Linked DNA regions of Homo sapiens: region 2 is linked to region 1. Evidence: fine-mapped expression QTL. Tissue or cell type: hippocampus. Region 1 holds a variant in brackets; the other region holds the start of a gene. All regions are shown on one strand. Distances are between the middles of the regions.

Region 1 (2,759 bases):
CTCGAGTAGCCAGACAATGTCAGAGGTGACACTATCAGGTTGAATTCTGAGAAATTGCCATTTTGTAGGTTAAAATAGCCAAACAGGAGCAATTTCATAGGATCCCACTAAGGCTACCAGTGGCTGGTGCTGCTCTGGCCTTGCCGGTACCAAACCCAGAGCCAAGCGTCTCACACGTGAAATCTCACTTCTCCCACGCAGCCCCTTCACATCCTATCACAGATGCGGGGAAACAGAGAAGTGGGTCAGAGAGGCTTCTCCAGGAGCGCACAGCCAGTTGGTGGTGGATGAGTGGATCTGAGCCTGGATCTGCCAGATTCCAGAACCCAACCACTGGGGTTTCCTGCCATGAGCCTCACAGCTGGGATTCTGATGTCTGAACATTCTGTGAAGTCCCTGACAAAAGACAACATCGGGGGACCCCTGTCCGGCTTCTCTCCATGTCTTGTTGGGAACACAACCTTGTGAGCACCTTGCAACGCCTGGGGCCTCCCCGCTGGCATTCACCTTGCCCGCTGCAGGGAGATGCTTGGCATTTCACAGATCTGTATGGAGCACCTTCCAGTGCGGGAAACAGATAAATAGAGAAGCCCTGGTCCCTGCCTCCGGGATTCCACAACAACCAAAGGGAGTCAACAGTTGTGGGGAGTGGGGAAGTGGTGGCCTGGGCGGCTTTTCCCAGAGGAAAAGCCTTTGTTCTTGGCTGAGTTTGGGGTGGGACTTGACCTGCTGGTTCCCACATCAGAATAATGCCATCTCTCCCAACAGCAGGCAGCTCTGCCTCCGGTCAGCTCACCGCACTGGCAGAGCAACCCTGGAGGTAGCAAGCCCCACGCATGGTCAGCCTCTCTCCCCAAGAAAAACCCATTTCCAGTGGGTTCCACAAGTCCGCTTGGCCCCATGCTTTGCGGGAATTCCCAGGCCAAACTGAGAGCTGCGGTTTTGACCCCAAGCTGGTCCAGGACTGTGGGGCCTCCTCTTGGGAATTCAAACCAGCGGTGACTTTAGGACAGAATCAGGGAGTGTTTCTGAGCTGGCTGAACTTACTGAACTGAGCCTTCTGCACACGGTCCCATCCAACATGACCGCTGGACAGCCCAAGAACCAAGCGGGGTGCAATCCCAGTGGGTGTGGAGGGGCCGTGACTGTCATGCTCTTTAAAATGGCCCTTGTCAAGGCATTTCCAAACATCACACCCCGCTTCAGAATTATCCAGCAGGAACAACAACTCTTGTTTATATCAACAAAGGAACTGTGTGAGTCAATTTAGAGATAAGCCGTACCTCCAGGAGTGTCTCAAGCCAGATCGAGATCAGGGCCCAGTTGTGAAGTCGGGGTGTGTGTCCAGAAGTGGTGGGAGCCCAACTTCTAGAAGCGCCGTGACTCCTGCATTGCCCTGGACTCTCCTCAAGTCTCAGCGCCTCCTCTATCAGGTCCATGCCCTATATACACCTAAGGGAGTCCCCAGTATCTGCCTCCCACTCATCTGACCAAGCACGTTCCAGGAACGATGGCAGCATGTAGGCCCAGCCCTGGCCCAATTAGGATGC[G/A]AGGGCTCATTAGTCAGGAGGAAGTCTGTCCAGCTCTCCACGCAGGCAGGCCTGAATCAAAGGATGAGCCATGAGCCATTTCAGTTAATGTCGCTCTTCAAGTGGATGCACTGAGCAAAATGTGTGCTCAGCAGGATGGACTTCCCAGGGCCCGGGAGAGTCTGGAAAGCTCAGGGGTGAGGAGCCAGGCAGGACTTGGCTGCTCTTCTGGTTTGGCCACATACTACATGGGTGAGTGGGGCCACTTTTCTGGCCTTTTGGGATCTCAGTTTCCTCCTCTGAAAAATGAAGGTAAAAATATCATAATAGGGCCTGGCGCAGTGGCTCACGCCTGTAATCCCAGCACTTTGTGGGGCAGAGGAAGGCAGATCATGAGGTCAGGAGTTCGAGACCAGCCTGGCCAATATGGTGAAACCCTATCTCTACTAAAAATATAAAAAATAAGCCCAGTGTGGTGGCGGGCGCCTGTAGTCCCAGCTACTCAGGAGACTGAGGCAGGAGAATCGCTTGAACCCCGGAGACGGAGCTTGCAGTGAGCCGAGATCGCACCACTGCACTCCAGCCTGGGCAACAGAATGAGACTCCATCTCAAAAAAAAAAAAAAAAAATCATAATAGATCCTAAGCTGCATGAGAGCAGAGATTCTGAATGCTTTGTTTACTACTGCAACCCAGTATCTAGAACAGTTTCTGATACATCACTGTGGCCTGATAAACACTCATTAGTGAAAGGATGAATGTTACCTTTCCAGGCAGGGCATATGTGAATCTCTCTACCCAGCATCTGGCCCATGGTAGGGACCCATCAGATTTAGCACCGGGCAGCGAATCCTTTTCTTCTCTATGCACCACAACCATGCCCAAGGCTCCCTGGGCCACGAGCTTATCCCCAGAAGGACGGGTCATTTGCTGGCATGCAGCCAGAAGATATCCACCACGTCACTGCAAGTCACCACCAGACAGTGTGGGTGAGGCTGCAGAAGCTGGAAAGATGGAAAGGCGGTCATATTTAGCTCAGGGTAGGCTTTTTGTCTTAGTCTTGAGCCACAGATGCGGGAGGCCCTGTCCTTTGTTCCCCTCCCCTCCACTGGATGAAGTCCTTTCACGGGGTCTGTGGTTGGCTGTTCAGCTCCCAATGGTTCCCATGGCTCAGAGCCAACTGTGTCCACCACACCTCAGCCCCTCTTTTCCTGGAAGGTCAGCTCTCCCT
Region 2 (2,629 bases), 500 kb after region 1:
AGGCTGGGCCGAGCCTCTCTCTCCCCATCTCTCCTTTCGCGCTCAGCCCTCCAGCCCACACGGGTTCTATTTCAGCAACCATGAACTTCTCCTGGTCACCACAGGAGCCCAGAGTGTTTCCGCCTCCCTGCCTTTGCACAGGCCATGCCCCAAGCCTAGCGTGTCCTTTCCACTCGGAGAGACAGACCTTCACAAACGTAGTCTAGGTTGCGGCCCAACACAGTCTCTGCCCCCAAGAGGAGAGTGAAGACTGAAGGGAAGGGACAGAGGCAGCAGAATGGGCCCAGGGTAGGCAGCAAGCTCACTGGGGCACGGGGGGCAGGGTGGGCACCTCGGCACTCGTGCGATCTGTGCTGGATCTCCATCGCCACTCGGTTTATTGCCCACTGGGCGCTCCTCTGGGCTGCCTGCAACGCCTGAGTCCCCTGGGCCGACAGAACTGCTGGGACAGGGGGCACACAATCATGCGTGGTTGGGGAAGAGCCTCAGCCTCATCCTCCTGGCCCCAGCCCTGAGCCCTGCCTCGGGAGACCCACCAGCCTGGGACAGAATGAGGAGGCAAGTGAGCCCCGGGGACGCTGGGCCCAGCACTCAGAGCCCGTGCTCCCAGGTTCTCAGCCCAAGATGTCTCCCTAATTCAACTGAGCTGGACTGGGATCTTTGAAAGGTGCTTTTCCTTAACAATTTTTTTTAAAGACACCACCCCAAAGATACAGACATCGCAGAACTCAGCTTTATTGACTGAAAGTAGCTGTGTTTGAGTGGCCCACCTTCGGCCGGGACAGCCAAGGGCAGGGTGCTGCCCCGGGCCGTTTCTCTCTGCTTCTTGGGGCCTTCTCTCCATTCCTTTCGGCATGCTCAACAGCTCCCCTTCCCTTTCCCGCCACACCCCTCCTCTCCCACCTATATCTCAGTTCTTGGCCCCTTCTCGCAGCAGGGTGGGCAGAAGGAGCCAAAGGTCCTTATGAGTGGGGGTGACAAGCTCTTCTGTCCCCGCCCGCCCAGGGTCCCACTTCCTCTACATTCCTCCCAACCCCGCGGCTCTCGGGCCAGCCTGGACTTACCTTGCAGGGCGCTGGGGGGCAGGCGTGTGTACAGTGGGTGCCCGTGGGCAAACCATGAGCTTGGGAGGGGTAGCAGCAGCAGCACAGCCAGCAGCATGGTGACCAGGAGCTGGGGTGAGAGACCCCTGTCCTCTCTCCTCCTCGGAGTCCACCTTCCGGGTGCCTATCCTTTGGTGCCCGCCTTCTGCTGCCTTTCGGCCCCCGGGCACTGAATTCTTGTCCCTCAAATCATCTGACCCCGTTCTCTTACATCAAAATTACCCGCCTCCCTGGTCAGCCCTCACCTGGCCCTTAACTCCTAGGAGCCCACAGGGGAATGGGGCTGCAGGGTCTTTATAGAGGACAGCCTGGGGGAGGGGTGCACGGGAGGGTGGCCAAGACTGGGGGAGGAGTGGGGTAGTGGGCTTGACCTTCACCTCTGAAGTCTCATCATCCCAGCTCCGAGCCCCCCTTCTGTCAAAGGAGCCCTTGTTTCTGCGGCTCCATCAAAGGGGCCAAGACAGGGAAGAAGGGCTGACGGTTGGGCTGCAGGCCAGGCAGAGGGGGGCTGCTGGGTGGGGGCGGGCCCTGGCTCCAGGGCTGGGATGGGGGGGGATCCCCATCTGCCTCTACCCCCTGAGGAGCTTACAGCTATGACGGGGCAGACACTCCTGGAGGGAGGAGGGCAGGGGGTGTCTGGGGTTTCTCAGCAGCCCCACCCCCTGAGGAAGCCCTGGAGCTCCCCACCCCTCTGCCCCTAATTGCTTGGCAGAGTCCCTCCCCAATGTGGCCATTTCTAAAGATGATCAAAGCAGCCTAATTAGCGCCGTAATTGCCGCACTGGGGGTGGTGGGGTGGGAAGGGGCAGAGGCAGGCAGCCGCAGGAGTGGCGCGGAAAGGGAGGCGGGAGATGAAAGGCCCACAGTGGCCCAGTTCCGGGAGGACAGGCCCTAGCAGCTTCTGACGCTCTCCCAGACCCCCTGGCCCTGCACAGTGCCCGCTCTGCCTGTCCGGCATTGTTCTGTGACCCTGATCTGGCAGTGGGATTCTTCTGGAGTCCTCTGGAGTCTCATGGGCAGGGCCACACAGCTCTCCTGGGACTGAGTTACCACCTGGGGTAGGATAGTGCCCGTCTGCGCTGCCCAGGCTCCCCAATTCATGTGAGGTGAACTGGTGGGAATATTTATCAGCAAATGCTATGACCCGGGGCTCTTTCCCCCTGGAGAGCCAGCTGTTCCACAGTGACCAGCACACCATGCTAAGGAGCCCTTTCCCCAGTTACCACCGCACCTCGCCATGACAATACCTCTACTTCAGGAATGCTCTGAAAATACTGTCTGCGGATGATTCTGGTGAGTGAATTTGGTGAAGTTGGAAAGGACTCTATTCACCAGAGTATCTGTCCATCTTGCAGGGTATCTTTTTATCCATGACCTCCACAATCTTGGTAGATAAGGCATTAGCTCAACACAGCTTGAATTTTAGCATAAACAGAGACAGTGTCCAAAGGAAGATCGCCTGCGGTTCCCAGTAAGAGCCACCAAAGCAGGGGACCCAGGAGCAGAGAAGGTGGGTGGGAAATCCTC

The links. PIP is the estimated chance that this variant, and not a neighbour inherited with it, causes the effect.
Region 2: PRSS56 starts here. The variant in region 1 is fine-mapped to the expression of PRSS56 in hippocampus (GTEx, PIP 0.99).

Annotation. Positions count from the first base shown.
Region 1 is chr2:233,021,691-233,024,449 of GRCh38, reverse strand. No RefSeq gene overlaps it. Among named protein-coding and RNA genes, the nearest start is that of NEU2, 9.6 kb to the left of the region's middle. The variant G/A (reference allele first, on the strand shown) is at 1,551.
Region 2 is chr2:232,519,131-232,521,759 of GRCh38, reverse strand. PRSS56 (serine protease 56) reads right to left here and starts at 1,372. Exons shown (of 13, transcript NM_001195129.2): 1 at 1,065-1,372; 2 at 332-439. The coding sequence starts at 1,161.